4 linked regions of the Homo sapiens genome follow. The main gene of each other region encodes a partner of the protein of the gene in region 2 in a complex. Each region holds a gene or a part of one and is shown on either strand. Other genes may lie near its edges. The genes, in order: CCND3, CDK4, CDKN1A and CCND1. A codon is read from its position in the direction of its gene.

The links.
Region 1: the proteins of CDK4 (region 2) and CCND3 are in contact, whole or in part, in a crystal structure (PDB 7SJ3), measured with the Homo sapiens proteins. Residues at the interface, in NP_000066.1 of Homo sapiens: Gly46 (codon at 4,798), Gly47 (codon at 4,801), Gly48 (codon at 4,804), Leu49 (codon at 4,807), Ile51 (codon at 4,813), Thr53 (codon at 4,819), Val54 (codon at 4,822), Arg55 (codon at 4,825), Val57 (codon at 4,831), Ala58 (codon at 4,834), Leu59 (codon at 4,837), Arg61 (codon at 4,843), Arg62 (codon at 4,846), Glu64 (codon at 4,852), Ala65 (codon at 4,855), Phe66 (codon at 4,858), Val77 (codon at 5,048), Ala79 (codon at 5,054), Val89 (codon at 5,084), Asp129 (codon at 5,320), His132 (codon at 5,329), Ala133 (codon at 5,332), Asn134 (codon at 5,335), Cys135 (codon at 5,338), Arg163 (codon at 5,422), Ile164 (codon at 5,425), Tyr165 (codon at 5,428), Ser166 (codon at 5,431), Tyr167 (codon at 5,434), Gln168 (codon at 5,437); in NP_001751.1 of Homo sapiens: His11, Pro13, Arg14, Ala15, Gly16, Pro17, Asp18, Arg20, Leu21, Arg26, Val27, Ser30, Leu31, Arg33, Leu34, Arg37, Tyr38, Glu74, Lys112, Leu113, Arg114, Glu115, Thr116, Pro118, Ile121, Glu122, Pro134, Arg138, Glu141 (codon at 2,942), Val142 (codon at 2,939).
Region 3: the proteins of CDK4 (region 2) and CDKN1A are in contact, whole or in part, in a crystal structure (PDB 6P8H), measured with the Homo sapiens proteins. Residues at the interface, in NP_000066.1 of Homo sapiens: Gly18 (codon at 4,714), Thr19 (codon at 4,717), Val20 (codon at 4,720), Tyr21 (codon at 4,723), Lys22 (codon at 4,726), Ala23 (codon at 4,729), Asp25 (codon at 4,735), Val32 (codon at 4,756), Leu34 (codon at 4,762), Ser36 (codon at 4,768), Met75 (codon at 5,042), Asp76 (codon at 5,045), Cys78 (codon at 5,051), Ala79 (codon at 5,054), Thr80 (codon at 5,057), Lys88 (codon at 5,081), Thr90 (codon at 5,087), Val92 (codon at 5,093); in NP_000380.1 of Homo sapiens: Met38 (codon at 2,500), Cys41 (codon at 2,509), Ile42 (codon at 2,512), Ala45 (codon at 2,521), Arg48 (codon at 2,530), Trp49 (codon at 2,533), Phe51 (codon at 2,539), Phe53 (codon at 2,545), Val54 (codon at 2,548), Glu56 (codon at 2,554), Asp62 (codon at 2,572), Phe63 (codon at 2,575), Ala64 (codon at 2,578), Trp65 (codon at 2,581), Glu66 (codon at 2,584), Arg67 (codon at 2,587).
Region 4: the proteins of CDK4 (region 2) and CCND1 are in contact, whole or in part, in a crystal structure (PDB 2W96), measured with the Homo sapiens proteins. Residues at the interface, in NP_000066.1 of Homo sapiens: Gly45 (codon at 4,795), Gly48 (codon at 4,804), Leu49 (codon at 4,807), Ile51 (codon at 4,813), Thr53 (codon at 4,819), Val54 (codon at 4,822), Arg55 (codon at 4,825), Val57 (codon at 4,831), Ala58 (codon at 4,834), Leu59 (codon at 4,837), Arg61 (codon at 4,843), Arg62 (codon at 4,846), Ala65 (codon at 4,855), Phe66 (codon at 4,858), Asp76 (codon at 5,045), Val77 (codon at 5,048), Cys78 (codon at 5,051), Ala79 (codon at 5,054), Arg82 (codon at 5,063), Ile87 (codon at 5,078), Val89 (codon at 5,084), Asp129 (codon at 5,320), His132 (codon at 5,329), Ala133 (codon at 5,332), Asn134 (codon at 5,335), Cys135 (codon at 5,338), Ser285, Phe287, Arg288; in NP_444284.1 of Homo sapiens: Leu6 (codon at 5,074), Cys7 (codon at 5,077), Cys8 (codon at 5,080), Glu9 (codon at 5,083), Val10 (codon at 5,086), Thr12 (codon at 5,092), Ile13 (codon at 5,095), Ala30 (codon at 5,146), Lys33 (codon at 5,155), Ala34 (codon at 5,158), Thr37 (codon at 5,167), Phe108 (codon at 6,899), Lys112 (codon at 6,911), Met113 (codon at 6,914), Glu115 (codon at 6,920), Pro118 (codon at 6,929), Leu119 (codon at 6,932), Thr120 (codon at 6,935), Ala121 (codon at 6,938), Leu138 (codon at 6,989), Gln139 (codon at 7,577), Glu141 (codon at 7,583), Leu142 (codon at 7,586), Val145 (codon at 7,595), Asn146 (codon at 7,598), Lys149 (codon at 7,607), Trp150 (codon at 7,610), Asn151 (codon at 7,613), Leu152 (codon at 7,616), Ala153 (codon at 7,619).

What each region holds. Positions count from the first base shown.
Region 1 is NC_000006.12:41,934,447-41,938,826, forward strand, and holds the end of CCND3 (G1/S-specific cyclin-D3), read right to left. Parts: exon of another isoform or gene 3,720-4,380; intron 2,949-3,719; coding exon 2,789-2,948; intron 2,250-2,788; coding exon 2,113-2,249; intron 1,662-2,112; coding exon 1,494-1,661; coding exon of another isoform or gene 1,405-1,493; 3' UTR 506-1,404; downstream 1-505. UniProt on the Homo sapiens protein: Regulatory component of the cyclin D3-CDK4 (DC) complex that phosphorylates and inhibits members of the retinoblastoma (RB) protein family including RB1 and regulates the cell-cycle during G(1)/S transition.
Region 2 is NC_000012.12:57,749,288-57,756,379, reverse strand, and holds the start of CDK4 (cyclin-dependent kinase 4), read left to right. Parts: upstream 1-4,069; 5' UTR 4,070-4,205; intron 4,206-4,643; 5' UTR 4,644-4,662; coding exon 4,663-4,880; intron 4,881-5,037; coding exon 5,038-5,173; intron 5,174-5,289; coding exon 5,290-5,457; intron 5,458-5,614; coding exon 5,615-5,724; intron 5,725-6,160; exon of another isoform or gene 6,161-6,875; coding exon 6,876-6,926; exon of another isoform or gene 6,927-7,062; coding exon 7,063-7,092. Other genes in the region: E3 ubiquitin-protein ligase MARCHF9, read right to left, coding at 495-851.
Region 3 is NC_000006.12:36,681,714-36,687,855, forward strand, and holds the end of CDKN1A (cyclin-dependent kinase inhibitor 1), read left to right. Parts: intron 1-2,383; coding exon of another isoform or gene 2,384-2,388; coding exon 2,389-2,833; coding exon of another isoform or gene 2,834-2,932; intron 2,933-3,738; coding exon of another isoform or gene 3,739-3,797; exon of another isoform or gene 3,798-4,037; coding exon 4,038-4,087; 3' UTR 4,088-5,619; downstream 5,620-6,142. UniProt on the Homo sapiens protein: Plays an important role in controlling cell cycle progression and DNA damage-induced G2 arrest. Involved in p53/TP53 mediated inhibition of cellular proliferation in response to DNA damage.
Region 4 is NC_000011.10:69,636,256-69,644,167, forward strand, and holds the start of CCND1 (G1/S-specific cyclin-D1), read left to right. Parts: upstream 1-4,900; 5' UTR 4,901-5,058; coding exon 5,059-5,256; intron 5,257-6,775; coding exon 6,776-6,991; intron 6,992-7,576; coding exon 7,577-7,736; intron 7,737-7,912. UniProt on the Homo sapiens protein: Regulatory component of the cyclin D1-CDK4 (DC) complex that phosphorylates and inhibits members of the retinoblastoma (RB) protein family including RB1 and regulates the cell-cycle during G(1)/S transition.

The sequences.
Region 1 (4,380 bases), on a different chromosome or scaffold from region 2:
ATCTAGCTGAACCAAGCCTAAGTAGTACACAAAACTCACACCTAAACATGTACCAGCTACCTCACTCATCTCCCCACCTGTGTTGAGCAACCCTTCCGACGTCCACTTCCAAAAGCAAAGTGCATGTCTTCAAGATAAAAGGCCATATTTATTGTGATATAATTTCTCAACCATTTGACATATGTAAAAACCAAGCTATCCTTTTTTTTTAAATGTGTCACTCATTTGAGTGTTGTGCTTCAAGCCCCATTTTTCCCATGAGACCTGTGGTCTTTATTGTGCAATTTTGCATGGCATAGTGATTTTTAGGAACGCATAGGTCACATTATAAAGCAGAACTGACTATATTTGGGTCAGAGACCATGTACCCCACAAAGCCTAAATATCCAGCCCTTTACAGAAAAGGCTCAATGATCCCTGCTTTAGACCATTGACTTCCACCTCCTTACCTCATACAGTGCAGAAATAGACTTACCCACACACCAATCCAAGAAGCCAAAGCCAGTTTTATTTCACAATCATCTTTATTACAGTAGGATGATGGTCCTGGGCCACCAGCCTAAACCTTGCAGCCTTAGGAAAGACCTGTGTCAACAGGGCTTGCCTCCCTCTCTAGACAGGGGCTCAGCCACCTCCAGGGCATCCCTGCTGCATTTTCCCTGCTGGAGGATGGGGCAGAGGGACAATGGGAGAGGAGGGCATGACCCCACCCCAGGCTATAGCAGCTCCTTGGCCACAAAGATCCTTTTGCCAGTAGCAGAAGGGAGGAAAACAGCAACCACCAGGGTTACCACCACTTGTGGGATGGCCAGGACCCCATTATGTCCTCTTAAAGTTGTGCTCAAAGCAATTAATAAATTAAAATGAGCCTTCAGCAGCAAAGCTGTCAATCACACAGGAGAAGCTGAGCAGAAAGCAAAGCAAAGAGGAATTTATAGCTTCTCTGGCTGAGGCCTAGGCCCCTCCCTCTAGGAGCAGCTGTCAGCACGGACTACATAGGGGCCTCCAAAGTACTGAGAGGAGCCATCTAGACTATTCCCCCTCATATGTGTCTATCATGCATTAAATTTTAGAGGGACCCCAATCCAAATGCAATAACCCTAGAAGGGACAACACCTTTAGAAGGCACTAGAGCATTTTGGCAGTTGAAAACATGAGAGCCCCCAGGGGTGGGGGGGGGCGTTCAAAAGGAATGCTGGTGTATGTATCCAATTCTGTCCCATCAGCCTGGCCCACCCCCAGCTAGAGTTGGGAAAGGCGCTGCTGGTCAGATGCAGGGAGGAGGAGCTTGACTAGCCACCGAAATGCAGACATGGCTGGCCGGGCCCCTTAGTGCACACTGCGGGGATGGGTAGGACCAGATCCCTTGGGCTTTGTGAAGGGGGAACAGACGCCCCTTCAGGCTTAGATGTGGTGTGGTTCCTGGAGGCAGGGAGGTGGGTGGCAGCGGCCCCTCCTCTGCTTAGTGGCCACTCCAGAGGGCCTCTCCAGGGCTACAGGTGTATGGCTGTGACATCTGTAGGAGTGCTGGTCTGGCTGGGCCCTTGGCTGCTGGAGCCCCGGGGGGCTTTGGGCGCTGGGCTGGAGCTGGTCTGAGAGGCTTCCCTGAGGCTCTCCCTGAGTGCAGCTTCGATCTGCTCCTGACAGGCCCGCAGGCAGTCCTGGGAACATGGGAGAAGAGTGAGGAGCAAACACTCCCCCCATAGCATCTGGCAGCAGGTGCAGGGGAAGGACAGCTCCCAACACATGGGGAAGTCTGGGGAGGTTAGGCCACAGCCCGGCCCCAGGAATCGCTCTTTAGTTCTCAGAAACTAGCAAGAGGATGTGGCAAGGGAGTGTGAGAGCAGCCCTGCATCTGACACCAAACCCCCCACCCCCACTCCAGCACACCACTTGGCAAGAAAAGAACCCCTAGGGCCAGTGCCCTTCACCCCACCCAAGATACTTGCTCTTCCCCAGACCAAGGCAGGAGATAAAAAGCCACAAAGCCCCAAGGTTGTGAAACCAGGACTTGGGACCAGGTTGGGGTTGGAGGTTTCCCTCTACTGGAGGCTCAGGGCATAGCACTACTTTATGAATGGAGAGGCTGCTGCCCAGCTACCCAGCACTCACCACTTCAGTGCCAGTGATCCCTGCCAGCAGCTCTGTGAGCTCATCCCCGGACATGGAGCAGGCACCCAGGCCTTGCACTGCAGCCCCAATGCTGCCCGTGGCGATCATGGATGGCGGGTACATGGCAAAGGTATAATCTTGGAGAGGAGGAAAGGGAACCATGAGAGAAGGAAACCTGAAGGATAACGGCCAGCATGGACTTCCGACTCCTTGGAAAGTGCCAGGCAGCATGAGTAGAGCAGAGGACATGCTGGAAAACTCCAGCAGTGGGTGGGGCAAGATATCAGCAAGGGAGGAAGACAGGAAAGAGTATCTTTCCTAGAGATCAGAACCAACTGCCAGTTTCCATAGGTCCCGGGAATAGACAAGACACTCCCTAGTATGGGAACACAACTAGGGCCAAGAGACTGGGGTTCTGTTCCCAACCTGTTCACTGTGAGACCTTGGGCAAGTCACTTCTCTCTATACCCTCAGTGTCCCCACTACAAACTGGAGGGGTCTGAGATCCCATATAGCTGATTATAACCTGCTTTTCTGCATTGAGACTGGGGGCTCAGAGGGGGTATAATTTTCACAAAGGAATTTTGACAGTATAAACCAGAATCTTCAGTTACCTCTCACCCTTATAAGTCTTCTGATTTTTCCAATTTGGCAAAAATGTGCATAGGGCTCTTACCTGTAGCACAGAGGGCCAAAAAGGTCTGGGCATGCTTTTTGACCAAGGCCTGTCGGTCACGGGGCAGAGAGAGCCGGTGCAGAATGAAGGCCAGGAAATCATGTGCAATCACAGCAGCCAGGTCCCACTTGAGCTTCCCTAGGACCAGCACCTCCCAGTCCTGAAAAAGCGGGGAAAGGGTGGGGTCAGTGGCTGGAGAAGTGAAGAGGAGGGAGCAAAGCAGAAGTCTCAAAGTCTCAGGCAGGGAAGCCCATCAAACTTTTAAAGCCCAAGACCCCAGTTCTGTTTCTGATTTTAAGGCCGGGCACCATGGAGTTCAAGGCAGGGAAGAGGAGGAGGCATGTGCTTTGAGCACTTACTGATCATTTACTAGGTGCCAGGACAACATGCTTTACATGGATTATCCCTTTTAATCCTGTCTGGTTATGTTTAAGGGGCCAATAATCCAGGCCTTCTCCTGACTTCATTCAGGGCTCTGAGGATTTCTCCAGCCAGGGCTGAAAGACGGAAGCAGCAGATACCACAGCATCACCATGAACTGGGCTCTCTTCTGGGATGAAGCAGAAAGACTCTCTCAACCCCAAGGATTTGTGAAAGGGGAGATCACCACTAGCTTCCCCTGCAACTCTGCATCCCAGCCAAGTCCACACTTCTTGAATCAACAGAAGGGAGTATGACTCCTCCAATGACAGCCACAGAGCCTTTTCTCAGGTTCCTCAAAGGGGAGATTGCCCAACCCAAGCCACATCCCCTTGGTAGGATATCAGGGATGGGTCCTGAGGTATAGCACCCCACCCCACCCCCTTTAGCTGGAACCCGTAGTGCCCCATGCCACTTGACTTTCAGGAGGATAGGTAGAGGCCAAGCCAGACAGGATGGCTCCAAATGATTCCAGAGGGATCAAGCCCTATCCTCACCTACCCAAGCCTACCTGCCAGTACTAGGTCTCGGGAGAAGGCTGGGAGCTCCACCCCAGTCCACTCGTCATGGGTTCCCAGACCTGGCCCCATTTCTGAGTTGCACACATGAGGATTTCTTCATTGTTTTATCTCAGGAAGGAACTTGTGGGTTTGACTCCTTATTGAGGCAGAAATGGCAACCCCACCCAACCTCTTCCAGGCCCCAGCCACAGCTGTCTCTCTCTTGGCCCCAGCTTAGGTGTCAGCCTCTCAAATCAACCCCTACCCTCACAGAGCCCCAGAGAAAATAGCCTGGCCTGGAGCCAGAAGTGAGACAGATAAATTACAACGCTACCCCTAGTGCATGTCCCAGGAGCCAACTCCTAACTCAGCAGTAAACAGAAGGGACTCAGCTTCTAAGGAAGCATCTGGAAGGCAACTGGGAGTGGGACTCTCCCTATGGGGAGGCAAGGGGTTGTGTTTGAGGGAAAGTGGCCACCTTTCCCCATATCCAGGCAACCAGAGAATCCCAGTGTTAACTGGTGGAGAACACACCCCTGGGAGTGCTTAGCTTCAGTAGGTGGCAGCGGCCATCACATTCCTGACTTTTAAGGCAACCTGGTCTAGCTAGAAGACCCAGGTTCTACACTCATCTGCTCAGTGCGATGCTGAGGCAGGACCTTGCCCTCCTTC
Region 2 (7,092 bases):
GGGACAACTTTGCCCATAAAATTTTAACAAAGAATACTCTTTAGAATGAGATAGAAAGTTGCAGAATGGGAAGTGAAAAAAAGTGCCCCACGGGGAGAAATACTGAGCTAAGCAAGGGCGCTGGCTGGGCCCCTCCCTTCAAGGGGGGCACAGAAGCACTCTCCTTTCTGCCCACCTGCAAGAGAACAGGTCCCCTTAGCTTACGGAGACCCTGGGGCGAGGGAAATAGGAGAGAACAGCAGTCCCTGTTAATGGGTGAGAGGGATTTTGCGCTCTCCGGGGAGAAAGCCCCACCCCTTCCTGGGGACCCTTGACCCTCCGACACAAACAAGCGCTCCAGGAGTCCCCTGCCAGCCCCTCGGCCTCACCCCATTCCCACTCCGTGTCCTGGGGCCCGCCCAGCCTCCTTAGGCGCCGCGCCTGCTCGCGGTCTCCGCTGACACCCCAGGTGCGCGCCTCCACCCTCCGCGCCCGGCCAGGTGCCCAGGCCTGACCTGCTCCGGGCCCTGGAAGCAGATCCGGCACTGAGGGGTTCGGAGTCCGCTGTCCAGGCTACTGCTGAGCGACAGGGCGTCCAGCGCGCCCGGGGGCGGCAGCGGCGGCGCGGGCGGCGGCAGGGGTCCGGCCCGCGGCTCCTTGTCGCCGGCCAGGCCCCGGGCCCGCGGCTCCGACCCGTAGTACTCCTCCTCGTCGCCGTCGCCGTCCCGGGTGGAGCAGCCAGCGAAGGGCGCCCAGCCGCAGCCGCCTCCCCGGCCCCCCCGGGGTTGCGGCTCGGCCCGGGGCCGCCCCCCGCCTGTCAGCACCAGCAGCTTCAGCTCGTTCAGAAACATGCGGAGCCGAGACTTGAGCATCGTCCGGACACCGGGGGCGGGGGGCAGCGTGCAAGGGGGGCTCGCTAGCGGCGGGGGGAGGGGAGAGGACAAGGCCGGGAAGGGGGCGCGCGCTAGAGAGCCGAGCCGGGCCGGGGTCTTCGGGGCCTGCGACAGCCGTTCACTGCTGCCACCGCCGGGGCTCCGGTGCTTGCGGGGCCGAGCGGGCTGGCGGCCCGGGGGCGGCGGGGTGGGCGGCCATGGCCAGGGCAGGGGGCGGGGAGGGGGGCTCAGGGTGCCGCACCCCGCGGGTCTGGGTCTGGAGCGGGCCGGGCCCCCGGGGTTACGCGCCCGGGTCCTCCTGCGGCGGGGCCGCCCCCCATCGCCGTTCTCTCGGTCCCAGTCCCCCTCCGGCTCCGGGATCAGGCTTGGCTCGGCCCGTGCGCTCGGCGGTGGCAAATGGCGGCTCCTTCCGGCGGCGGCGGCGGCGGAGACCCCCCCGGAGTGGCGGGCGGGCGGGGCGGGCGCCGGGGAGCGGGTGAAGGATGGAGGGAGGGGCGGGGCGGGGAGGGGGAGAGGAGAAGGGGCCGCGGCTGCGCATCCCCGCCCTGCCCCGCACGAGCAGGTGTCCCAGGGGCGGGGGCAAGTGTGGGATCCCGAGGAGGGTGGAGGAAGGGGAGTGGCCAAGGAAGGGGAGTGTGCACACAAGTTGACTAGGTGTGTGTCTGGGAGTGGGGGATGAGCGGGTGAGCATGGAAGGTGAGTGGTTAAATGACGCAGGTGTACCAGGGAGGGTGAGGCTTGTGCAAAATGGGAATGTGCAAAGAAAGAGCTGTGCAAGTGTCGGAGGTGTGAGGGAGGTACATGGGCAGGGGTGGGACTCAAGCAATATACACTTTACCCAAAGGGCTGAAAAGTGTGATCGATGGGGACTGGGAAAGAGAGGTGTGTAAGGAATGGAATCGGATTGTCTGAGAAACAGAAGCCTGTGATTGTAATGTGTGAAGGAGGTGAGGGAGGGAGCAGGGGAGGTAGGCGTGCTAAAGGGATGGGAGTGTCTTTCCTGGTACTCTCCTGCCCTCACCTCCACTACACTGAAGTGAACAATACACACACTTACCCCTTTCCTTTTATGGAGACTTCCCTCTGAGGCCAAGTTCTACCCCCATCACATTTTTTTCTTTCTTACACTTACATTCTCCCTCTCCTCCCCTTTGCAAAGCTGAGGGAAAAGGGATTCCAGGGGAGCTCATTGGGTCAAACATACTGGGAAAAAATTTAATTAGTGAAAGAGTAATTAACAGAAGAAGGGAGGGGACAGAGCCTGGGACAGACTGCCAAATTAAGGTTCCTCAATAGAAAGTGATGGAGAGACAGTAATGTTCCCATGAAGTATTCAAATGTTTTGGATGGACTAATGAATGAATCAGAAAAAGGGGCTGGGACCCAAGCAGACAGAGAGGACGTCTTCTGTTGCAAAGACAGTAAGCTGTGAAGGTCTTATGTGGAAGGTGAGGCTGAAGTGGGGAATGCTGGTGTGGGAAGGGAGTTTGAAAAACTCACAGACAATTATCTTAGCCTTCCAGAAGGCTTACAAAGCACCCACCCCTAGCAAGGTAGCCAATAAAACATTCACCTCTTGAGCCCCTTAGTCAGTTCAGTCCTTGAGGTTTTTCTTACTAGTGTTCCAGCTGCCCTTGCCAGGAGGGGCCCAGGGCTACAAGTATCAGGATGGAAAGAGGAGGCATCTGTATTAATATGTATTCTATTTTGCTCTAAGTCATGGTTTATATTCATCTTCTAGTTTGAACTCTTATATTCTCAGCCAGATGGTTAAGGAAAACAGAAGTTAGAGTGGAAGGAGTGGCAAATAGGGTAATAAAATGGCTTTAGATTTTAGACAAATTCTCACAAATGAGACACTAACCGCTTTCCTCCTTTACTCCCATACCCCCAAAGGGCTGGGAGATAAAGACCTTGGAGCCAATAAAACAAAGTAGGAGAAATCTACTTGTGTCTACCTAGGTGTCTGGGCAGAGGCCATTTGGGAACAAGTGTGTTCTGGACAGTGCTAAGTGCTAAGAAAGCGGCACTAGGGAAAAAGAGGGAAGCACAATAACTCCAAATGAGTAGTCACAAGGTTTGCAGAAGGGGGCATGTCATTTTCATTCATTGTGGTGGTCTGGAGGGTGCAGGGGGTGTGGTGGTAACTTTCTTGCACATGTGCAATCCTGTATCCGTCTTATATATGATGTGATAAATAATATCATATACATACATATATACATAGAAGCATATATGCACACATACAAATATCACATAATCATAGAACCTTCCTACTGGAAAAAAAAAAAAAACTTAAAAGGTCAAGTATTCCTGTCTCCTGCTCATCAATAACTTCTCTGCCAGATGGCCTCAGGTCTTTGCATTAACACTCCCAGGGAGGTTTGGAAGTTGGAAAAGTGAGAGGATTACCTTGTCACTGAGCCTGTTGGATTACTGTATTAATCTGCCTTCCGTCATCCTTTAATCGTAGTTTTGCCCTCAAATGGGCATTGTTTACTCCCTATTGTAGAAGACCCCATTGTTGGCTACATCTTTATAGATAGTCGTACCACTACTTTAAAGGGCCAGTGACAGACACCAAAAACAAAATAAAAACCCACATACACACTGGAAGCAAGCACTCAGTAAAATGTTGTAGAATTAATGAATGAAACAATGACACAAATGAGAGTATGTTTTCTCATGGTGGAGCGAAAAGGTGACAGCATCACCTCTGGTACCCCAACTCCCACCCCCTCCCCAATGCAGACAGGCTGAAAGACCGGTAGTGAGACTGGAGTTCAGCCTTCAGACCGGTAGTGAGACAATCCTTCAGCCGGGAGTTGGGCTCTGGGTGGCCTAGGTTGCCATGGCACCGCCTCGGGCTCCACCCTCTCTTGTCCCCCTCACCGCTCCCCCCCTGCAGCGGGGGTTGTGGCAGCCAGTCACGTGCCCGCCGCGTAGCCACACCTCTGCTCCTCAGAGCAATGTCAAGCGGTCACGTGTGATAGCAACAGATCACGTGGCTGCCATCGCCCCTCCGCCCCCTTACACTCTTCGCCCTCCTCCCAGTCGAAGCACCTCCTGTCCGCCCCTCAGCGCATGGGTGGCGGTCACGTGCCCAGAACGTCCGGCGTTCGCCCCGCCCTCCCAGTTTCCGCGCGCCTCTTTGGCAGCTGGTCACATGGTGAGGGTGGGGGTGAGGGGGCCTCTCTAGCTTGCGGCCTGTGTCTATGGTCGGGCCCTCTGCGTCCAGCTGCTCCGGACCGAGCTCGGGTGTATGGGGCCGTAGGAACCGGCTCCGGGGCCCCGATAACGGGCCGCCCCCACAGCACCCCGGGCTGGCGTGAGGTAAGTGCAGTCCCTTCCCAGGAATGAGAACCAGTGCCCGCCCCCCTCACAGCTTTCCACGCGTTCGTTTCGCGAGCTGGTTATGGAAGGGTCGCTCAAGGGCGGGAAGTGGGGCCTTTGTGGTCATGGGAAAGTATAATTTTAGGGACTGAGGTGTAGGATCTTCGATGCAAGGCATGTGTCATGTGTGATCTTTGTGCGGGGCGCGATTGTCCCAAAGGAAAAAGCGTTTTCTATTGCAGGGCCTCACGTGGCTGGAGGGGTTGGTATTGAGTCATTGTGTTATCTCTGGGGCCGGCCCCAAGGAAGACTGGGAGCGGGGGATGGGATGCTGGTGGTGTTCTTTGCGCTTTTTTTTTGGGAGTCCCTTTGTTGCTGCAGGCTCATACCATCCTAACTCTGTAAGCGACTTTTGGTGATAGGAGTCTGTGATTGTAGGGTCTCCCTTGATCTGAGAATGGCTACCTCTCGATATGAGCCAGTGGCTGAAATTGGTGTCGGTGCCTATGGGACAGTGTACAAGGCCCGTGATCCCCACAGTGGCCACTTTGTGGCCCTCAAGAGTGTGAGAGTCCCCAATGGAGGAGGAGGTGGAGGAGGCCTTCCCATCAGCACAGTTCGTGAGGTGGCTTTACTGAGGCGACTGGAGGCTTTTGAGCATCCCAATGTTGTCCGGTGAGAAGGTGGTGGAGGGTTGGGCGTGGGGAGTAAAGGGAAAAGACAGCCTATAGGTGGGGTGTGATGATCTGTAGAGAAGTGGGGACCCTGAGGAAATAATGAGAGGCCATGTTGGGTTAAAGGGGATTGAAAAGTGAGCATTTACTCTGGTCAGGCTGATGGACGTCTGTGCCACATCCCGAACTGACCGGGAGATCAAGGTAACCCTGGTGTTTGAGCATGTAGACCAGGACCTAAGGACATATCTGGACAAGGCACCCCCACCAGGCTTGCCAGCCGAAACGATCAAGGTGAGTGGGGTTGGTAGGCATTGAGAGGTGGATTGGGACCTTTGTAGTAGAACCTTCTGGGATTTCAGGTATGGTGCCTAGTTTCCAGTGCATCTGTACCTCCCCTTTGAAACTAGGATCTGATGCGCCAGTTTCTAAGAGGCCTAGATTTCCTTCATGCCAATTGCATCGTTCACCGAGATCTGAAGCCAGAGAACATTCTGGTGACAAGTGGTGGAACAGTCAAGCTGGCTGACTTTGGCCTGGCCAGAATCTACAGCTACCAGATGGCACTTACACCCGTGGTCAGTAGAAAGATGGTACCAAAATGGGTTCTGGTTGGGAGTAGGAGAGTGATTGCCCGTAGCAATTGAGAAGTCATGTGCTTCATGTGTTCAGTCAAGCAAGTTGTGTTTCATGGTAACCCATGGGGTCCCCATCCATTCTTCCTATTCCCTTTAGGTTGTTACACTCTGGTACCGAGCTCCCGAAGTTCTTCTGCAGTCCACATATGCAACACCTGTGGACATGTGGAGTGTTGGCTGTATCTTTGCAGAGATGTTTCGTCGAAAGTATGGGACCCACATACCCTGGACTACCTTGAATTCCCCAAATCGCTTGTTCATAAACCACATCCATACCTTGCCCATTCTTTTTTTTTGAGACCAGGGCTTGCTGTGTTGCCCAGGCTGGATTGCAATGGCATGATCACAGCTCACTGCAGCTTCAACCTCCTGGGCTCAAGTGATCCTCCCATCTCAGCTTCCCAACTAGCTGACACTACAGGCACGCACCTCCATGCTTGGCTAGTTTGTTAATATTTTTATAGAGATGGGGTCTCAGTATATTGCCCAGGCTGGTCTTGAACTCTTGCACTCAAGCAATCCTCCCACCCCTACCTCCCAAAGTAGCATAAGCTACTGCATCTGGCCCCATTCTTTTACTTGCGTACTACTAACTTGCCCATAGCAGAAAGCTCTGAAATGTTCTGGAATTAGGAACTTCATATCCCTTTATTCTCTTTATTTTTTATTTATTTATTTATTTATTTATTTATTTATTTATTTATTTATTGAGATAAGGTTTCACTCTGTCACCCAGGCTGGAGTGCAGTGGCCCAATTACAGCTCACTGTAGCCTCTACCTCCTGGGCTAAAGCAATCCTCCCATCTCAGCCTCTTGAGTAGCTGAGACTACAGGTGCACGCCACCATGACTGGCTTTTTTTTTTTTTAGATGGAGTCTTGCTCTGTCGCCAGGCTGGAGTGCAGTAGTGCGATCTCTGCTCACTGCAACCTCCACCTCCCAGATTCAAGCAATTCTCTTGACTCAGCCTCCCAAGTAGCTGGGACCACAGGTGCACGCCACCATGCTCAGCTAATTTTTGTACTTTTAGTAATGACAGGGTTTCACCATGTTGGCCAGGATGGTCTCGATCTCTTGACCTCATGATCCACCCACATCAGACTCCCAAAGTGCTAGGATTACAGGCGTGAGCCGCTGCACCTGGCATTTCTTTTTTTTTAAAAAAAGAGACAAGGTCTTGCTTGCCCAGGCTGATCTAGAACTCCTGGGCTCAAGCAGTCCTCTCACCTCAGCATCCCAAAGTGCTGGAATTGTTGGCCTTTATTCCCTATACTTCCTATTTTGAGCCACTAAGCAGTAACCATTCAACTAAGATATCTTTGAAAATGACTGCTACCTTATATCCCTTCTCACCTTAGGCCTCTCTTCTGTGGAAACTCTGAAGCCGACCAGTTGGGCAAAATCTTTGAGTAAGTGACCAACATGGGAGAAAAAGATTTTCTATTCTGAGTCCTCTTTCTGCTGAACCCAGGATGGCAACTGGCTCTGCCCATGGGGATGGGAACTGGAGGACCCTCCTGACCAGAGTTCTCCTGTCCCCCACAGCCTGATTGGGCTGCCTCCAGAGGATGACTG
Region 3 (6,142 bases), on a different chromosome or scaffold from region 2:
TCCCGAGTAGCTGGGACTACAGGTGCTGCCATCATGCCCGGCTAATTTTTTTTTGTATTTTTAGTAGAGACGGGGTTTCACCGTGTTAGCCAGGATGGTCTCAATCTCCTGACCTCGTGCTCCGCCCTCCTCGGCCTCCCAAAGTGCTGGGATTACAGGTGTGAGACACTGCACCCAACCACCCAGCTAATTTTTATTTATTTTTATTTTTAGTAGAGACAGGGTCTCAGCTAGTTGCCCAGGCTAGTCTTGGACCCTTGGGCTCAAATGATTCTCCCACCTCTGCCTCCCAGAGTATTAGGATTACAGGCATAAGCCACTGCCCCTGGCCTCCCCAAGTGATTGTGATGGGCCTCTCTGGTTAAGAAACCTCAAAATTAGAGAGGGAGTGGGGTTCAATACTACAGCACAGGACTCAGGGCAAACAGGCCTGGGTTCAGATCCTGGCTGTGCCACTTATGAACTGTGTGATGTTAGGCAAGTTACTTAACTTATCTGAGCCTTGGTTGCCTCTTCTGTAAAAAGGGAGCTAATAGATATCCACTTTTTAGGAGGATTGATATTTTTAAACTGCTTAGAACAGCCCCCAAACATAAAAATATATAAATAAATCCCAACTCATGCCTAGCAGAGGGTGGATAGAGGTTATTTGAGGGCTCTGTCCACTGTACTGGGTGACCCCTTTATGGGGCAGTGGCCTTTGGCCTTTTTAGCTGTATGACTCAGGGGCAAGTCTCATATCTCTTCCATCTCCTGCCCTTTAAACTTGGTGTGAAGTTACCAAGAGCCTCCTCTCCCAACCAGCTGGGACGTGAAACTGTGGGCTCCACTGATCACAAGCAGTGGGGTGAGGTGGGGTGGAGCAGATGTGGCATGTGTCCCGGGCTTCCTGCCTCATGAGGACTCAGCAGAGCTTTCACCCCCAGAAACTGCAAGTTGGGACTTGTCCCTAGGAAAATCCAGTTGCTGCCAAGGTCGTGCAGTCACTCAGCCCTGGAGTCAAGCCAGAGCAGGCAGGTAGGTGCCAGGGCTCCCTCATGGGCAAACTCACTCTCCGTTTTCCCTCTCCTGAAGGGGGAGGAGAGGAGCCAGGTAGACCAGCCACCTTTAATTTTCTTTTTGCCTGCAAAACGGTTTCCTTGGACACAGGCAACACGAGGCAGGGGCTGCCAGGTGTCTAGACTTCAGATCACCTGATGTGCCTGGCAGGATGTGGCTCAGCCTGGGAGAAATCATCCCTTGCGCTGCCCCGCCCGGCCCCTCCTTACCCCTAGGCCACCCGCCTGACGACATCCTTGGGAAAGGCCCTCAGCCTACAGCACCTGTCAGCTGCTGTCTGAAGGAGGTAGTTGGCAGGGGGAAGTGATAGGGGGGAGGCTCAGTAAAACTGAAGGCAGAGAGGAATAATCATACTTCTGTTTTCAATGCACTTCTCTATACGAAGTGCTGCTGGCACGTTACCTACATTAACTCAGTTAATTCTCATGTCTATCCTCTGAGACAGTCACTATTACTATCCCCATTTTATAGATGAGGAAACTAGAGCTCAGACAAGTTAAGTTGCTTGCCCAGGGTCACCTAGTAAAACCTGGACTCCAGCCCAGGTGATCTGGCTCCAGAGCCCTCCTGCTTAACCACCAGGATACAGCCTTTCATTCAGCTCTGTTCTGTCTGCCTTGCTGCATGGACTCTGTGATCAATTTCTTGAGTATGTGTCTGTAGCCATGCTCTTTAAACTTGTACATGGCCCCATTTATGGATGAGGAAACTGAGACCTAGAGACATTAAGTGGCTTTTTAAAGCTTACGTAGTAACTGGCAGAGCTAGGACCACAACCCGGGTGCTTTTTGCCCCAAAGTCCCGGGTACTTTTACTTGGCAGAGCAGGGTTACCCTACTTGGGGATCTGGGTCGGGGGACTTAGGAGGCTGGAGGAACTGTCAGACTGTTTCTTCTTTTGGGAATTGACCTTCTGGCCAGGGCTGCGATTAGGAAACTGCTGGACTCTGGCAATTCACACATATTTGGGGGGCATTCACACCCATGAGGGACACCTCTGGGGGGAAAACAAATTGATTTTAGCTGATAATACCTGGTGGCAAACAGGACCCTGGTCCTTGCTCTTGCAATAGACTTGCCTTTGTTGACATTAGCTTGCCCTTCAGTTGCCTGCTCTCCCAGTGACCTTGGTGTGCCAGGCTGGCTGAGCTCTGCTGGTGGGGGTCAGGCCTCCTGTGGGAAGGAAGCAGGAAGACCAGCTGGAAGGAGTGAGAGAGACCCTCTGGTAGGAAGACGTCACCTGAGGTGACACAGCAAAGCCCGGCCAGGTAACATAGTGTCTAATCTCCGCCGTGACCAGGGCCTTCCTTGTATCTCTGCTGCAGGCGCCATGTCAGAACCGGCTGGGGATGTCCGTCAGAACCCATGCGGCAGCAAGGCCTGCCGCCGCCTCTTCGGCCCAGTGGACAGCGAGCAGCTGAGCCGCGACTGTGATGCGCTAATGGCGGGCTGCATCCAGGAGGCCCGTGAGCGATGGAACTTCGACTTTGTCACCGAGACACCACTGGAGGGTGACTTCGCCTGGGAGCGTGTGCGGGGCCTTGGCCTGCCCAAGCTCTACCTTCCCACGGGGCCCCGGCGAGGCCGGGATGAGTTGGGAGGAGGCAGGCGGCCTGGCACCTCACCTGCTCTGCTGCAGGGGACAGCAGAGGAAGACCATGTGGACCTGTCACTGTCTTGTACCCTTGTGCCTCGCTCAGGGGAGCAGGCTGAAGGGTCCCCAGGTGGACCTGGAGACTCTCAGGGTCGAAAACGGCGGCAGACCAGCATGACAGGTGCGGACATGTGCACGGAAGGACTTTGTAAGGGACCAGGATTCTCAGAATCCATGGTCCAAGGGCTGACCTGTCTGGTCCTGGTCCAGCATGCTCCAGGTAGAAGGAAACAGGCCCAGAGAGGGGAAGCAACCTCCCTGAGGTCACACAGCAAGTAGGCAGCAAAGACCAACTAGCTAACATTTATTGGGAATGTTCATTATGCCAGGCCCTTTGCCAAGCTTCTAAGGTAGATTTATTTAGTCCTTATAGCAATGTTATAACATAAGACATTCTTGTCACCCTGCCCGCCTTTCTTTTTGAGACAGGTGTCTTAACTCTGTTGGCCAGACTGGAGTGCAGTGATACGATCATGGCTCACTGCAGCTTCAAACTCCTGGGCTCAAGCGATCTTCCTACCTCAGCCTCCTGGGTAGCTGGGAAGCTGGGACTATAGTTGTACACCACTACGCCCGGTTAATTTTTTGAGTTTTTGTAGAGACAAGGTCTCACCATGTTGCCCGGGCTGGTCTTGAACTCCTGAGCTCAAGCAGTCCTCCTGCCTCAGCCTCCCAAAGTGTTGTGATTACAGGCGTGAGCCACCATGCCCAGCCCCTTGCCATCCTTTTAGGGCAAGGAAACCAGGCTCAGAGAGGTAGAGTGATTTATCTAAGGTCTCAAAGTGAATTTGCCGTTGGGTCAAGACTAATTATAATAACAACAACTACTGACGTTTATATGGGCCCGGCATTGTGCTGAACACTTTCATGGATTTTGTAACAGAATCCCTAGATCAGCACTGTCCAGTAACTCTGCAGGGATGGGAGTGTCCGGTACAGGGGCCACGAGCCACATACGGCTGTTGTGCATTTGACACACAGCTCATGTGACTGAGGAACTGAATTGTTCATTTTATTTGATTGTAGTCTGTTTAAACAAGCACACAGAGCTAGTAGTGGTTCCTCTGCTGGGCAGCTTGACTTAGAGCAGACCCATGGGTGCGGGTGCGGTGATGGATAAAATCACATCTGTGAAGCATGGTGGGACACTCCATAATACCCCTCAAGAGACAGAGTGGACGTTCCCCGAGTTCTTCCTGTTCTCAGCAGTCGGCCCCATTGGCCCCAGGGAAGGGTGTCCTGGCCCCCCACTGTCTTCCTCAGTTGGGCAGCTCCGCCGCGTCCTCTTCTTCTTGGCCTGGCTGACTTCTGCTGTCTCTCCTCAGATTTCTACCACTCCAAACGCCGGCTGATCTTCTCCAAGAGGAAGCCCTAATCCGCCCACAGGAAGCCTGCAGTCCTGGAAGCGCGAGGGCCTCAAAGGCCCGCTCTACATCTTCTGCCTTAGTCTCAGTTTGTGTGTCTTAATTATTATTTGTGTTTTAATTTAAACACCTCCTCATGTACATACCCTGGCCGCCCCCTGCCCCCCAGCCTCTGGCATTAGAATTATTTAAACAAAAACTAGGCGGTTGAATGAGAGGTTCCTAAGAGTGCTGGGCATTTTTATTTTATGAAATACTATTTAAAGCCTCCTCATCCCGTGTTCTCCTTTTCCTCTCTCCCGGAGGTTGGGTGGGCCGGCTTCATGCCAGCTACTTCCTCCTCCCCACTTGTCCGCTGGGTGGTACCCTCTGGAGGGGTGTGGCTCCTTCCCATCGCTGTCACAGGCGGTTATGAAATTCACCCCCTTTCCTGGACACTCAGACCTGAATTCTTTTTCATTTGAGAAGTAAACAGATGGCACTTTGAAGGGGCCTCACCGAGTGGGGGCATCATCAAAAACTTTGGAGTCCCCTCACCTCCTCTAAGGTTGGGCAGGGTGACCCTGAAGTGAGCACAGCCTAGGGCTGAGCTGGGGACCTGGTACCCTCCTGGCTCTTGATACCCCCCTCTGTCTTGTGAAGGCAGGGGGAAGGTGGGGTCCTGGAGCAGACCACCCCGCCTGCCCTCATGGCCCCTCTGACCTGCACTGGGGAGCCCGTCTCAGTGTTGAGCCTTTTCCCTCTTTGGCTCCCCTGTACCTTTTGAGGAGCCCCAGCTACCCTTTTTCTCCAGCTGGGCTCTGCAATTCCCCTCTGCTGCTGTCCCTCCCCCTTGTCCTTTCCCTTCAGTACCCTCTCAGCTCCAGGTGGCTCTGAGGTGCCTGTCCCACCCCCACCCCCAGCTCAATGGACTGGAAGGGGAAGGGACACACAAGAAGAAGGGCACCCTAGTTCTACCTCAGGCAGCTCAAGCAGCGACCGCCCCCTCCTCTAGCTGTGGGGGTGAGGGTCCCATGTGGTGGCACAGGCCCCCTTGAGTGGGGTTATCTCTGTGTTAGGGGTATATGATGGGGGAGTAGATCTTTCTAGGAGGGAGACACTGGCCCCTCAAATCGTCCAGCGACCTTCCTCATCCACCCCATCCCTCCCCAGTTCATTGCACTTTGATTAGCAGCGGAACAAGGAGTCAGACATTTTAAGATGGTGGCAGTAGAGGCTATGGACAGGGCATGCCACGTGGGCTCATATGGGGCTGGGAGTAGTTGTCTTTCCTGGCACTAACGTTGAGCCCCTGGAGGCACTGAAGTGCTTAGTGTACTTGGAGTATTGGGGTCTGACCCCAAACACCTTCCAGCTCCTGTAACATACTGGCCTGGACTGTTTTCTCTCGGCTCCCCATGTGTCCTGGTTCCCGTTTCTCCACCTAGACTGTAAACCTCTCGAGGGCAGGGACCACACCCTGTACTGTTCTGTGTCTTTCACAGCTCCTCCCACAATGCTGAATATACAGCAGGTGCTCAATAAATGATTCTTAGTGACTTTACTTGTAATATTACTATTGTGGTTATTATACCTTATAAGAACAAATAAATGGGCTTTTGGGAAGGATTTCATAATTAAATAATTTTAAAAATTAAGCATTTAAATTTAGAGAATGCAGAAAACTTAGCAAACAGAAAGACTGCTGCAAAAAACAACAGCAAAACAAAAACTACTGTCACACCTCTGCAAAGATCACCAATGTCAATATTTTGGTTTGTTGTGTAATCTTTTTGTAAAGAATATATTATAGCTTAACATCATTATTCATCAGATAAATGCAAATTAAGATACCACAATAAGATACCACCATACACTTACCAGAATGATTAAAAAAGACTGACAGTGCCAAGCATTGGCAAGGTTATGGAGCAACTGGATCTCTTATTTAAAAAAACTGTTTGGGCCGGGCGCAGTGGCTCACACCTAGAATCCCAGTGCTTCGGGAGGCTGAGGCAGGAGATCACTTGAGGCCAAGGGTTCAAGACCAGCCTGGCCAACATGGTGAAATCTCTACTAAAAATACA
Region 4 (7,912 bases), on a different chromosome or scaffold from region 2:
ATTTGTTAAGCACCTTCTTGCTCCGAGCTTTCCAGCCACAGTGCACTGGACGCCATCGGAAGGCTGCAGCTGCTATTTGGTGCTTTACCACCGCTGAGAAGGTGGAATGGTCACGGCCCGGTTCTGTCACTTTCTTCAGCCGGACAGTCGCCTTATTACGGATTCCAGTAGGGCCGAGCACACTCCTTCCTGCCCGTCTTTACAGATGAACATGCTATCGCTCCAGCAGTACAACCCGCCTTATTACGTAAAAAAGCAGCCCCTATCTACCCGCAGGGAAGGAGTATGTTCGGCACCACAGCTGGACTGGTGCTCGAGTTAAGCGTCCTGGGAGGTCCGCATGCGCTCCGGAACCGTAATGCGCGCTTTTTCTAAGCCTTACGGTAAACGCGGACGCAGGGCAACCACGTGGCGGTGGAACCGAGGCCCGGCGGGAATGCGCGGAATGCGCGGCGCGGCCTCGCGCGGTTCCCGAGCCACGGCCCAGGGTCCGGCGGCGCGCGCTCTCGCCTCCTCCCCTCACCTCTCCCAGCCGCACCCCGGCCCTGGCCCTGCCGCCCAGAACTCGCTGGGCAAGTCGTGCCCCGCGTGAACACACAGAAGGGGCTTGGGGACCGAGCGCGGCCCATCAGTCCCTCAGACCCTGAGGACCCAGAATTCCCTAAGGGGTCCGAATCCGAGTCCTGCCCCCAGCCCTTAAGGCACGGGCTCCAGGGACCCCAGGGGAAGGGCGCGGGGCATTAGGTACGCAACCCGTTTCCCCGCACCTGGAAAAAAACTCCCTTTCCCTCCCCTCCCCTGCTTGTTGAGTGTCCGGATAACCAGAACTCTAAGGCGCCCCGTAATAACGACCCCGCTGTCCCTCCACCCACCCCCAAGTGCCAAAGCGAGGGATGGAAGCGCTTTCAAGCGTTCCAAGGGCATTGAGGAGCGAGCTGGAGAGGCGCGGGGATGCGGGGTCCTCCCCGCAGTCTTCCGGAAAGGGCGGGGGAGGGCGCGGCAAGTTCCGGAGTGGGGCATGCCGTGGGAGCCCACGAGGGCCTCAGCGCGGATCCTCCGCCGGAAAACCGGCTCCCGCGAGCCGCCGCCGCAGGTTTCCTAGGCCCCGCGAGTCCCGCAGCGAAGCCCTGCGTCTCCGTCCGACGCGGGGGTCTGCTCAGCCTCGGGTGGGCCGCGGCCAGGCCTGACTGCGGGGGAGAGGGCCGAACGTGACCTCCGAGGTCACCCCCAGCCAGCTTTCTCTCCTGTGGTCGGAAGTGGTTTTCTTCTCGATCTGGGCGCCTACTCCCCACCACTTGGTCTGAGAGGGGCTGGGGCCGGAAGGCCAGGGAATCTCTGGTGGATTTGGGGGTTCATATTGCTCAGGGTACCAGCCGATGCGTTTTGAGGGGCGGGAGTCGAGGAATTAGAATCGCCTTTAACCCTCAAGAGTTGCGCCTTCAGCCTCGGGATCCCAGATGCGTCGTTGGAGCCAGGGCCGCCCCCCTACCTGTTGGGTTTGCGTTTTAACTCCAGCGCACACCTTGCCGGCAGCCCTCGGAGCTAGGGGAGGGGTCTCGTTTCCCCGCAGCCCGCCGGACAGACGACTGGGGCACGGGAGGGGCGGTGGCAGGGTGGTCTGTGTGTGGCTGAAACTAATTGATCTGGAGCGGAAACGCACGTCTGCGGTTGGGGCGATGGGGGGGGCGGTGCGGCTGTCCATGTGCCGAGCGTGTGGCTGTCTCGGGTGGGCACTGGGGCCGGAGTTCGCCCCGGCCCACCTCGCAGTTTTGGGGCGCCTGGGATCGGCGCTACGTAAGCGAAGCAGAGCTGCCATAGCACGTGGGCCGCCACGCGCACCCCAAAAGCAAGCAGTGTGGGGGGAAGGGGAGCTCGAGCGCCTTCGGAGCCCAGGGGCCGGCTTTCGGAAGCGTTTTCCCGGGCGACTTAAGGGCTTAACAATGGAAAACTCGCGGAGCCTGAGCCAAGTCCTTTCAAGTCGCCGCCAGGTATGCGGCTGCAGGTGACCCCACCTGGGTGCGCCCGCCCGCCAGCCGCCCTGGTGGAAAAGCGGGTGCGGGAGGTCGCTGGCGAAAGGTCGGGACTGGTCCCTGCACCACCCGCCCCCAACCCAAGCCCCGAGCCCCGCGGCGCGCAGCCGCGCTGAGTCCCGGGGTCTGCGTCGCGGCGCGCCGGTTCCTGAATGAACGCGCTCCCTTCCCCCGCCTGAATGAAGGTTCCCACAGCCAGGGACGGTGGCGAACACGCGCCTGCAGCGGAATTCGCTTTCTCCTGACCGACCATCCGCCCAGGCCGCGGTCACCGGGGCGGGGGCCAGGGGGCGAGGAAAGCGTGAAGGTGATTTCAGTTAATTTTGGATTTTCTTTCAAACAACGTGGTTACCCTCCCGACTGGGCCACTTGCCCTTTGTCTCCAAATGGTCACCAAGAAATAAGAACAGAGCACTTTAAATGAGCCCAGAATCCGCAGTTCCTGCTTCGTGGTGGGTTTTAAGAAGACAGTGTAAAGTAAAACTGCAACCGAAAAGTTTTTTAAAGTTGCTTTTCTCTTTGGAAAAAATAAAATCAAAATGCTTTCTCTGCGCTTCTTGAAGCAATGACCCTCAAAAGCCCAGAGGTATTGGCCCCCTCGGGGGACCCGGGGGCCGCCAAGCAGGGTTCCCCCAGGTGGGGGCTGGGCAGCTGGCGCTCCCCGCCGGGCCCCAAATTCCAGCGCCGGGCCCCAAATTCCAGCGCCTCCCCCGCGGGTTCCTGGACGGCTCTTTACGCTCGCTAACCGGGCTTGCAATTTTGCGCTCGTCCCTGAGCCGGGAAATCAACGAAGTTCCTAGTCGAGATCTGCCCGGTCCGCCTAGTAACAGCGCCGCGCCCCCATTGGCTCATGCTAATTCCAGTTTCCTCTGTCTTGCGCCCGGGATGGGGGGGTGAAGCTCCCTCCTGGACCCAGAGCCGGTTGTGCCGGAGTGGGCGAGCCTCTTTATGCCCTGCTGCCCCTAGCCGACTTCGGCCCGCTTCGCGCCTCGGGCTGGGCCAGGGCGCACGCGGGGCTCGGGGCCCCTCGCCCCACGGGATGGGAGAGGCCGGGTGATAGCTCCGGGCCCCATAAATCATCCAGGCGGCCGCCGGGTCGGGATTTTATGAATGAAAAAGCAGCTGGGCCGCCCTTGTGCGCGGGCTGATGCTCTGAGGCTTGGCTATGCGGGGGCCAACGCGATTGTGGGTGCTCGGGGAGTGGGGGGGGGCACGACCGTAGGTGCTCCCTGCTGGGGCAACCCATCGCTCCCCATGCGGAATCCGGGGGTAATTACCCCCCCAGGACCCGGAATATTAGTAATCCTAATTCCCGGCGGGGGAGGGGGCGCGGGAGGAATTCACCCTGAAAGGTGGGGGTGGGGGGGGTCGCATCTTGCTGTGAGCACCCTGGCGAAGGGGAGAGGGCTTTTTCTATCAGTTTTCTTTGAGCTTTTACTGTTAAGAGGGTACGGTGGTTTGATGACACTGAACTATATTCAAAAGGAAGTAAATGAACAGTTTTCTTAATTTGGGGCAGGTACTGTAAAAATAAAAACAAAAGTTAAGACAGTAAAATGTCCTTTTATTTTTTAATGCACCAAAGAGACAGAACCTGTAATTTTAAAAACTGTGTATTTTAATTTACATCTGCTTAAGTTTGCGATAATATTGGGGACCCTCTCATGTAACCACGAACACCTATCGATTTTGCTAAAAATCAGATCAGTACACTCGTTTGTTTAATTGATAATTGTTCTGAATTATGCCGGCTCCTGCCAGCCCCCTCACGCTCACGAATTCAGTCCCAGGGCAAATTCTAAAGGTGAAGGGACGTCTACACCCCCAACAAAACCAATTAGGAACCTTCGGTGGTCTTGTCCCAGGCAGAGGGGACTAATATTTCCAGCAATTTAATTTCTTTTTTAATTAAAAAAAATGAGTCAGAATGGAGATCACTGTTTCTCAGCTTTCCATTCAGAGGTGTGTTTCTCCCGGTTAAATTGCCGGCACGGGAAGGGAGGGGGTGCAGTTGGGGACCCCCGCAAGGACCGACTGGTCAAGGTAGGAAGGCAGCCCGAAGAGTCTCCAGGCTAGAAGGACAAGATGAAGGAAATGCTGGCCACCATCTTGGGCTGCTGCTGGAATTTTCGGGCATTTATTTTATTTTATTTTTTGAGCGAGCGCATGCTAAGCTGAAATCCCTTTAACTTTTAGGGTTACCCCCTTGGGCATTTGCAACGACGCCCCTGTGCGCCGGAATGAAACTTGCACAGGGGTTGTGTGCCCGGTCCTCCCCGTCCTTGCATGCTAAATTAGTTCTTGCAATTTACACGTGTTAATGAAAATGAAAGAAGATGCAGTCGCTGAGATTCTTTGGCCGTCTGTCCGCCCGTGGGTGCCCTCGTGGCGTTCTTGGAAATGCGCCCATTCTGCCGGCTTGGATATGGGGTGTCGCCGCGCCCCAGTCACCCCTTCTCGTGGTCTCCCCAGGCTGCGTGTGGCCTGCCGGCCTTCCTAGTTGTCCCCTACTGCAGAGCCACCTCCACCTCACCCCCTAAATCCCGGGGGACCCACTCGAGGCGGACGGGGCCCCCTGCACCCCTCTTCCCTGGCGGGGAGAAAGGCTGCAGCGGGGCGATTTGCATTTCTATGAAAACCGGACTACAGGGGCAACTCCGCCGCAGGGCAGGCGCGGCGCCTCAGGGATGGCTTTTGGGCTCTGCCCCTCGCTGCTCCCGGCGTTTGGCGCCCGCGCCCCCTCCCCCTGCGCCCGCCCCCGCCCCCCTCCCGCTCCCATTCTCTGCCGGGCTTTGATCTTTGCTTAACAACAGTAACGTCACACGGACTACAGGGGAGTTTTGTTGAAGTTGCAAAGTCCTGGAGCCTCCAGAGGGCTGTCGGCGCAGTAGCAGCGAGCAGCAGAGTCCGCACGCTCCGGCGAGGGGCAGAAGAGCGCGAGGGAGCGCGGGGCAGCAGAAGCGAGAGCCGAGCGCGGACCCAGCCAGGACCCACAGCCCTCCCCAGCTGCCCAGGAAGAGCCCCAGCCATGGAACACCAGCTCCTGTGCTGCGAAGTGGAAACCATCCGCCGCGCGTACCCCGATGCCAACCTCCTCAACGACCGGGTGCTGCGGGCCATGCTGAAGGCGGAGGAGACCTGCGCGCCCTCGGTGTCCTACTTCAAATGTGTGCAGAAGGAGGTCCTGCCGTCCATGCGGAAGATCGTCGCCACCTGGATGCTGGAGGTGCGGGGCTTCGGGCGGCTCTCTTAAGACTTCCCTGCAACTTGTTGCCCAGACCCACGTTTCTTTGCTACTCACCCCCCTCCCTTCTCTCCCGCTAGAACTTTGAAGTTTGCCGTGGTGTTTCTAGGGATCCGTATTTTCAAAATAAAAATTGCGGGTATTTTCTGAAGGAGGAAGGGGTGGGGGTGGGGGTGCTAGAAGTAGCGTTTCGTGGGAGGGGAGAAGGGGGTCCGGGAGGGGTGCCTTCGGGAGAAGCCAGTGCCAGGGGCACCCCAATGGGCCCGAGGGTGCGGGCTGGCAGGCTGGGTGCGCTTTGTGTCCCCCGCCTGCGCCCCAGCCCGGCTGCGCCTCAGCGGCCGGGAGCCGCCAACTCCGGGGGGAGGGGGCATAGATTTGATTTTTAAATTAATATCCATGGACACGTATGCAAGGGCCGCTCGTGCCAGTATTATGCGCCATCTTTGCTCTTTTATTGCAAAGCAAAAGTGTTTATTAATAATTGGGGGCAGGGTGGGGGCGGGGAGCGGCCGCCGGGCGCTGGGGCCGCAGCTAAGGGCCGCGCGGCTGCCGGGAGCCCGCGGGAGGGGCGCAGGGACGCGGCATGGGTAGTTTTGGGGGGACGCCGCTAGGGAAGGGGGGGCCTTTGTTCAAGCAGCGAGTCCCGGGGCGCCCCGAACGGGCAGCCTGGGCCGGAGAGCACGGCGAGCTGCAAGGTCGCGTGGCCCCCAAGACGCCAGGGCTTGATCCCCGTCTGCAGGGATATCGGCTTGGAGGACCTTCTCCGAGCGAGCCGGGGGCCTGGGAGCACATTTTCAGACCTTCGGTGGGCGCCTGAGGGGCCCGCAAGTATTTTAAAATAATTTTTGAAAGTGCGGCGTGGTGCCCTTGCGAGAGGGAAACGCCGCCCGCGCCCAGGGGGAAGGGGGGGCCCCGGAGTTTGAATTCCTGGGGCTCCCCCCGGAGCCTGTAACGAACTCCCAACCCCCGGCCTGGGTAAAGGGTCGCCCGAGGGTCATTTTCAGGGTTTTTTTATGCACTTAGTTATTTTTTTAATATTTTTAAATATTTTTTGAAAAGATGACGTCTGGGGAAATGCGGCGCGGCGGCCTGGGACGCCACCTTTGTGTCTCGCAGGCGCGGCGCCCAACCCCGCGGCCCGTTCCGCGGCCCCGCACCCCAGTTGGTGTCGACCCCCAGTCAGAGGGACCACGGAGCTCCAGGGCGGGCCAGGGTCCCGGGGGCCGGCAGCCCGCGCCGCCGCGCACGCCGCCCAGCTGTGCCCGCTCCCGCCCCCACCGTGCCAGCCTCGCGGGGACTTTCCCTTTCAGTTTCGGGGAGGGTGGGTACTGGGGACGCGCGGGGGAGGGGGCGCATCACGGGAAGCTCCTGCCGCCCCCAGCCCCGACCCCTCGGCGCCCTCCAGACCTGGCGGCCCTGCCAAGCGCGATGGGGGGTGCGGGGGCGTGCGGGGGGGCGGCGCGACCTGGCGGCGGCGGTCACGGGCCCCGTGCCTCCGTAGGTCTGCGAGGAACAGAAGTGCGAGGAGGAGGTCTTCCCGCTGGCCATGAACTACCTGGACCGCTTCCTGTCGCTGGAGCCCGTGAAAAAGAGCCGCCTGCAGCTGCTGGGGGCCACTTGCATGTTCGTGGCCTCTAAGATGAAGGAGACCATCCCCCTGACGGCCGAGAAGCTGTGCATCTACACCGACAACTCCATCCGGCCCGAGGAGCTGCTGGTAACCACTGGACCCCGCCGCCCCCCGCCCCCCGCGAGCCGCACGCAGGACCACGGGGCCGGGGAAGGTGCAGGCGGTGGCGGCCGGCCCGCCTCTGACATATCTGCTCCTCCGAGGGAGGGCGGCCCCGCCGCCGGGCGTCCCTGTCCGGGGAGCGGGCGGGATCCTAGCCGCCCTCGTCCCGCCGCCCTGTGTGCGCTTGCCTGCGACTCCCACCGCGTTCGCGCCCCGCGGTGTGGCCGAAAAGTGGGCGGCGCGCGCCCTCCAGCGGCTGCACGAGGAGCGCCGCGCTCGGCGCTGAGCCTCCAGTTCCAGGTGGTGGGAGGTCTTTTTGTTTCCACTTGCAGAGTCTTTTCACGCGGCGGGCGCCTTTTCTGTTTTGATCTGGGATTGCGTGTTGCCCCAGCTCCCTTGAGTCCCCAGCATTCGCCAGCCCTCCCCTCCAACATCCAGGACCGCACGAGACGCAGGGGCCAGTGCTCTGAGCCGGAGGTGCGGCGTGGCCCGGCCCCCGTGCTGCCGGCTTCCCCGCGCCCCCGGGCTGGCCCGCACCTCCCCTGATGGCCGCTCACCCTGTGTTCGCAGCAAATGGAGCTGCTCCTGGTGAACAAGCTCAAGTGGAACCTGGCCGCAATGACCCCGCACGATTTCATTGAACACTTCCTCTCCAAAATGCCAGAGGCGGAGGAGAACAAACAGATCATCCGCAAACACGCGCAGACCTTCGTTGCCCTCTGTGCCACAGGTAGGGCAGGCCCGGCAGCCCCCGGCCTCCCCTTGAGAGCCGGCTCCTTAGGTGACCCTGGCCGGCTTCTTGCTCTCCACCTGGGTGCTGTCTGGGAAGATGTCCCCAGACCCCCTCCTGCGCTGGAGAGCGCTCTTCCAGCTCTGGTGAGCAGAGGCCCTGGATTGTTTGTCGCG